Linked DNA regions of Homo sapiens. The protein of the gene in region 2 purifies or fractionates together with the protein of the main gene of each other region. This does not show direct contact. Each region holds a gene or a part of one and is shown on either strand. Other genes may lie near its edges.

Region 1 (3,813 bases), on a different chromosome or scaffold from region 2:
GCTAGTTTAGAGCTATGTCAACCTCTGAGACTATCAGGTATGGTTCCCATACCTCCTCACATGTAAACTCAGGTTTTAGCTGATGGGGAAGAGGGAGACCCTGGACTGGAAGGTCAGGTAGGACAAGTAGATCTAGCACAGGACATTACCCAGTGGGCTGATGTACCACCTTTTGGGCCCCAAGTTCCAAAAGGCACTCCACCTCCCTCTGCCTAGACACAGAATCCAGTGCTCCCCATCCCCCAATGAGTATGGAGGGGCACAGACATGCCAGAGCCACCCTGAGGCAGGCAGGGACAGCCAGAACAGGGGTCAAGTTGCCTCTTACTCAGAGCCTGCCCCGCCACCTTTCCTGCGAAGGAGCACAAATACCCACTATGATGACTGCAAGGCCCCTGCCCTGTCACTGCTCACCCGCCAATCTTCACAACACGACTATTTATAGCATTCGCCCCGCTCTCACCATGAGCTCTGAAATGAGCCTTCCACTTAGCAGTAATGAGAGACTTATTGCCTGGCAAGGAGAAGCCACTCCAAGACTCCACTTGTCCACCTGCCTGGCCAACCCTAGGGTTGAGGAACCTCCTTCAACTAAAGCAAGCTAGCAAAGAAGGGTTAAAAGCAAGCCCACGGATGATAAAGGGAAAGAGGAGTGAGCCTGAAAGGTTTACCTAGCTAGGACCCTCAGCAGCCAGCTGAAGGGAGGGTGCATCTAGGAGGCCACGCGGGAGGTGGATGGCCTGTCCCAGGTCTGGCTGTGGCTCAGCCTCTGACTCCATGGGTGATCCAGGCAAAGCCTTCCATCCTAAGTCTCCATGTGCTCAACAGCAAAGTAGAACACCCTAGCCCTGATGCTTCCAAGGTCGGTGAAGGAAAGTCATTATTTTTTAATAGTTGGAGTCAAATCTTCTTTGCCAACCTGGGTGCCCTCGGGGCTTCCTCCATCTCAAGAGTCCATGCCCCTGACACGTCCCATTTCTAAACACACAGATGGCTGTCTTTGCTTCTCTACCCACTCACATACCCACTCCAGCCTTGGTCTCCAGGAGGAGGCTAAACAAGATCACAGTGTCAGGAAGCAGGAGCTGTCAGGCTCTGGGGCCCCTCCAATGCCAGCACTTAGAGGCAGGCATCTGCCAAACCTGAACCCAACTCAGCAAACTGGTCCAGGTCACTGAGGCCAGGGGCAGGGAGGCCCCTGAAGAAGGTCCAGGTCCTTCCCCAGTAGCTAGATGAAAGAAAAGGATCCCTGAATCTAGTCAGGGCATGGCCTTCACCAACATCCTCACACTCTGGACAAAGGACCCAAAGGGTAGTAGCTGAGTGGCCATCACAAGAGCAGCAGACATTTGGCTTTTGGGGGAAGATCCCAGAGGACAGAGCCTGTGTCCACCCAGAGATTCCAGGGACAATGGGGACCCTAGCCCAACCCCTCTCAACACTCAAGCCACCTCCCTAGCTTCCCTTCTGGAGGAACTTGGCCATAACAAGATAATAAGAGGGAGTACTGCTCTTTCCACCCTCTCCCCTAGGCTGGGCAGCACCAGGCTGCCACCCTGTGCCACCTGTTCTGCCAGCCCCCTCGTTGGCAGGCGGGAGGCAGCTCTGCGGCTGTTCTGCGCATCTGCTTCCTCCGGAGAGCCCGGCTCTGAAGTTGCCTGGCTGTGGACAGCCCCGTTGCCATGGAAACTGCATCCTCCATCCTTGCCGTCGCCTTCATCTCAAAGCCATCAGGGAGAACAGAGGATCAAGGGAGACAGAGGATGGAGAGAAAACTGTGGCCCTGCGACACAGCCCTTCCTTCTCTGCCCAGCTCTCCCTCCTCACAGCATCTCACACAGGGAGCACCAGGTCCCAGAGCCTGCTCCCAGACCCCTGGAGGGGCAGCCTCAGGCCCAAAACTAGCCTGGTCCTACCTGCTGTTACCTGGGGGCCCTGGTCCTCCCTACTGGAGGGAGGCATGGAGCTAATTAAAATGCCATTGACTGTTCAGCCCCAAATCATTATAGCACATGCACCAGGTCCTACCAAAATTCAGACTTGGGCAGAGAAGGGACAGGAAGAAGGCAAAGGAGCAAACTTCTAAGCCAGGCCCACAGGCAGAGAAGGGGCTTGTAGTTGCCCCCTGGCCCTTCCTGGGAGACTGCTCTCCCTTGCATGCTCTGCCCACTGAGCAAGAATGACTCTAGTGGGGGCTGGGGATGGAAGGTGAGGGGCAGGACAAGCTATATGCTCTGTCCCTGAGTGATCAGGCAGAGAGGACAAGCCCTTTCCCTCCCAGCCAGGTGCAACCTCGGAGGGAAGACAGGGTGACCATGGGCTGGCTCTCAGGTCCTTGCTGCACAGTAGGAGCCATGGCCCGGGCAATATGTCAATGAGCCAGTAAATATTGGAAAATCATTGGAGGAAGGCGAGGCCAGCTGCCTCTCCCTCAGTTAGCCCCAGGGAGCCCTTGGAGAGCAGACTGCCAGTGGCCAAGGACACTAGCTCAAGGTCACACTGGGCTGGTCCCACTGGTGAAGAGCCTGGGTGGGCCTGGGGTCCTCCTAGCCCTGGCACATCCCCTTCCACAGCCCAGACAGCCAGCAGTGTGTGGAAGCATTGCCAGGACATGAGAACGTGCTCTGCCACTGACACCACTGGCCATCTAACAAACCCACAGCCCAGAGCAGCTCACTCCCACACACAGACCCAAGGAGACTATAAAGCCTCTTTCCAAGGTGGGAGAGTTGCAGATGTTCACATTCCTCTCCACCTAACAGGCAAAAGTCAGTGAACCATGCCAAGGTGCCCCCAGGGTCTGCCAGAAACTGGATTCAGAGTTCCAGTCCCTCAGACACACCTCCGGGCCTTCCCTCCCACCTGGGTCTTCCACATGCAGAAACAAGATGGGGACTTGGGACACCACCCATGATGCAGGAATTTCTAAGAGACCCCAGACACCAGCACTTCCCCACCACCACCCCACCCTGCACCAACACCTGCTTACTCACTCAGGAGTGTTGGCAAAAAAGGGAAGGAGCAGCTCACCCACCTCACACAGGCTGCCACAGTGCCACTGCGTCAGCTACCTTGGGGACACACCACACACTCCCACCTCACTTCAGCCTGAGTTCATCTCCTGGGCAGGGTGCAGGCATTTACCCCATTCAGCTCAGGGCTCCCACAACAGGGCAAGACTGATACACCAGGCCAAGCTTTCCCCCACGGGACCCACAGTGCCTCCCCAGCAGGTCTTTCTGAATTATGGGAGAGGAAGAAAAGAGGTAAGAGAGAGGACCTGGACCTGAACTATCCTCATTTAGTGCTTTGTATTCAGGACATCACCCTGTGCCCTGGCTTCAGCTAGGGATTGGGAGCAAATAGAAGACAGAAGAGGTCAGGCCCAGGACGAAGGCTGATGATGGGTCCCACTCCCAGGCTACCCAGAGGCTGGAGGTTTGCTTAGAACTAGGTGGCTGCAAATGCCCAAAAGAAGGAGGCAATGTGTGGGCCAAGGACGGGTCACATCTCCTACATAAGCTCTAGGCCCAGCAAGGGATGAGGTCTGGCTGAGGGGCCCTGGGCCTTGCCTTACTGTTCACCCTGAGCTACCCAGTCCTATCTATCCTTCTGTGCCAGGCTGGATACCCAGGCAGCTGCACAGCCAGCAAGCAGCTGTTGCATCCCACCCGAGGTAGTGGCGTCTCCTCACTGGGTGAAGTGATGCATGCTCATTTTTAATTACAGACACCAACATGCACCTGCCTGCACACAGCAGTCCCTGCAAGTGGGGACTCAAACCCTGGAGGCCCCTCAGGCAGCTGGTCTTCA
Region 2 (3,813 bases):
TTCTGGTCTTTTTTTTTCCCCCTAACCAAGACAAATGAGGCTCAATTAAGGAAAAGGGACATAAGATACCTATTCCAAAACTGAATTCCTTTTAACTCTCATGAAATGACAAATAGAATTGTTAGTATATGTGAGCACTGAGAATTACTTTATTGATGAACACTGGTATTTTCTCTGGTGTAGGAAGCTGAACCATCTATCTCCAGAAATGTCTTCAGAAAGTAAAGAGCAACATAACGTTTCACCCAGAGACTCAGCTGAAGGAAATGACAGTTATCCATCTGGGATCCATCTGGAACTTCAAAGGGAATCAAGTACTGACTTCAAGCAATTTGAGACCAATGATCAATGCAGACCTTATCATAGGATCCTTATTGAGCGTCAAGAGAAATCAGATACAAACTTCAAGGAGTTTGTTATTAAAAAGCTGCAGAAGAATTGCCAGTGCAGTCCAGCCAAAGCCAAAAATATGATTTTAGGTTTCCTTCCTGTTTTGCAGTGGCTCCCAAAATACGACCTAAAGAAAAACATTTTAGGGGATGTGATGTCAGGCTTGATTGTGGGCATATTATTGGTGCCCCAGTCCATTGCTTATTCCCTGCTGGCTGGCCAAGAACCTGTCTATGGTCTGTACACATCTTTTTTTGCCAGCATCATTTATTTTCTCTTGGGTACCTCCCGTCACATCTCTGTGGGCATTTTTGGAGTACTGTGCCTTATGATTGGTGAGACAGTTGACCGAGAACTACAGAAAGCTGGCTATGACAATGCCCATAGTGCTCCTTCCTTAGGAATGGTTTCAAATGGGAGCACATTATTAAATCATACATCAGACAGGATATGTGACAAAAGTTGCTATGCAATTATGGTTGGCAGCACTGTAACCTTTATAGCTGGAGTTTATCAGGTAAGCAGCAATGAAACAATTGGTTATTTCTAGAAAAGTAATCTAGTACATGAAATCTCATATCTCTAAGGGATCTGAGGAATCACAATAATTAAAGGTATCATTTATTGAGAGTTCAGGATATATGAAGGGTAGAGGCAAAATTCAAACCCTAACCTGACTCCACAGGTAATATAAGGCTGGTTCACTGGACCTCCACCACCCAGTACAACTCCTTAATTTTACATGTCAGAAAATCTTGGCTTTGCTTGAGATTATTTGTGGCTGGTTATTGGCAGAGTCAGCATTAGCAGTTAGGCAAGTGGGTAACAGAATGGAGTTGAGAGTGCAGGAGTTTCTCACTTTTTTTTTTTTTCTGGAGACAGGGTCTCACTCTGTCACGCTGGAGTGCAGTGGCACTATCTTAGTTCACTGCAACGTCCGCCTCCCTGGCTCAAGCAGTCCTCCTACCTCAACCTCCTGAGTAGCTAGGACTACAGGCACATGCTACCACACCTGGCTAATTTTATTTTATTTTATTTTATTTTATTTTTTATTTTTATTTTTTGTAGAGACAGGGTTTTGCCACGTTGCCCAGGCTGGTTTCAAACTCCTGAGCTCAAGCAATCCTCCCGTCTTGGCCTCCCAAAGTGCTGGGATTATAGCCATGAGCCACCACACCCAGCCTCAAATTCTAAATGTCTCTTACCTTCCATTAAAATTGCTGATCTATTGAGCAACTCTTACTAAAGGTAGTGGTTGTCTTGGATTGTTGGGGAGGGAGGGAAAAAGTTGGGGACCACAGTTTCATATTATCAGCCAGGAGAAAGGATAAGAAATCAAATTCTTGAGTCTCCCATAGAATCCACTAATCTGTCATTATCATCATGCCCCTGGCTTTTGGCATCCAGGAGTCAGTGCCAGGATTAAACCTTCTCTAATGCAGGCATTTCAAACCAACAAGGGAAGGGGAAGAGTAGCTCACTTTAGTTGGTGCTCAGATGAGTGGGGAGGGAGAGTGAAGATGGTGTGAAGATGAGCTGTCTACTCATATATAATGGTAAATAATAAGTCTACTTACTTATTTATTATTTATTCATTTATTTATAAAGAGACAGGGTCTCTCTATGACCAAACTCCTGGGCTCAAGTGATCCTCCCAATATTGCCTCCCCAAATGCTGGGATTACAGGCATGAGCCATCACGCCCAACCAACTTTTGCCTTTTTGTTAGTATGTCCCACCAAGAAGGAAGAAGGCATAACAATTCTGAAAACTTATTAGACAGAGGAAAATATAAAGAAGTAAAAATGCAGAATTTTTATTAATATGGGAGACAGTGTGGCATAAGTACATATATACTGCATGAGAATGGTTTCTTAGTATGAGGTTAAAGATAATCTACAATAATTTTTAAAGTGTGATTCTACTTTGATGTAAATCTAATTTTTTGTTTTACCAATTAAAACTTCACTTGTACACTTGCTCTTAGCCAAGAGGCTGAGAAGCCGTAAGACTTCACTTTTACAGTAGTGATTTGTAATTTAAGGAAAATACTTGGTTTCTTAACTAGAATAATTTTTTCCAATTTGAAGTTTTCTTGTGGATCCTTGAGAATGTTTTTCTTTTAAAAGAGGTCTGTTCTTTGTGATGGGAAGAATGAAAAAAAAAAGAGGTATGAACCTTATTCAAGTTTAAGAAACGTATGAAAAGAAAGAAATCCAAAGTTCCTGTCTCACCTGGGTTAATAAGTAACAGTGTGACCTTGGGCAAGTTGCTTAGCCCTTTAAACATAATTTTCATCTTTGTAAAATGAGAAGATTGATATATGATTGTGTTTATTCTAGCTCTGACATTCTGTGATGCTCTGATGATATGTCTCCATGCAAGAAATGTCAGGATAATATAAAATTTAGAAGTTCTTTTCCATTTATATTTAACACTTCTATATCCTTCCTTCCAGGTAGCGATGGGCTTCTTTCAAGTGGGTTTTGTTTCTGTCTACCTCTCAGATGCCTTGCTGAGTGGATTTGTCACTGGTGCCTCCTTCACTATTCTTACATCTCAGGCCAAGTATCTTCTTGGGCTCAACCTTCCTCGGACTAATGGTGTGGGCTCACTCATCACTACCTGGATACATGTCTTCAGAAACATCCATAAGACCAATCTCTGTGATCTTATCACCAGCCTTTTGTGCCTTTTGGTTCTTTTGCCAACCAAAGAACTCAATGAACACTTCAAATCCAAGCTTAAGGCACCGATTCCTATTGAACTTGTTGTTGTTGTAGCAGCCACATTAGCCTCTCATTTTGGAAAACTACATGAAAATTATAATTCTAGTATTGCTGGACATATTCCCACTGGGTTTATGCCACCCAAAGTACCAGAATGGAACCTAATTCCTAGTGTGGCTGTAGATGCAATAGCTATTTCCATCATTGGTTTTGCTATCACTGTATCACTTTCTGAGATGTTTGCCAAGAAACATGGTTACACAGTCAAAGCAAACCAGGAAATGTATGCCATTGGCTTTTGTAATATCATCCCTTCCTTCTTCCACTGTTTTACTACTAGTGCAGCTCTTGCAAAGACATTGGTTAAAGAATCAACAGGCTGCCATACTCAGCTTTCTGGTGTGGTAACAGCCCTGGTTCTTTTGTTGGTCCTCCTAGTAATAGCTCCTTTGTTCTATTCCCTTCAAAAAAGTGTCCTTGGTGTGATCACAATTGTAAATCTACGGGGAGCCCTTCGTAAATTTAGGGATCTTCCCAAAATGTGGAGTATTAGTAGAATGGATACAGTTATCTGGTTTGTTACTATGCTGTCCTCTGCACTGCTAAGTACTGAAATAGGCCTACTTGTTGGGGTTTGTTTTTCTATATTTTGTGTCATCCTCCGCACTCAGAAGCCAAAGAGTTCACTGCTTGG

The links.
Region 1: the proteins of SLC26A2 (region 2) and TEX264 purify together in Homo sapiens (affinity purification with mass spectrometry; one large-scale study listed by BioGRID and IntAct). This does not show direct contact.

The regions. Positions count from the first base shown.
Region 1 is NC_000003.12:51,694,997-51,698,809, reverse strand, and holds part of TEX264 (testis-expressed protein 264), read right to left. Parts: intron 1-3,813. UniProt on the Homo sapiens protein: Major reticulophagy (also called ER-phagy) receptor that acts independently of other candidate reticulophagy receptors to remodel subdomains of the endoplasmic reticulum into autophagosomes upon nutrient stress, which then fuse with lysosomes for endoplasmic reticulum turnover.
Region 2 is NC_000005.10:149,977,445-149,981,257, forward strand, and holds part of SLC26A2 (sulfate transporter), read left to right. Parts: intron 1-183; 5' UTR 184-208; coding exon 209-907; intron 908-2,848; coding exon 2,849-3,813. UniProt on the Homo sapiens protein: Sulfate transporter which mediates sulfate uptake into chondrocytes in order to maintain adequate sulfation of proteoglycans which is needed for cartilage development.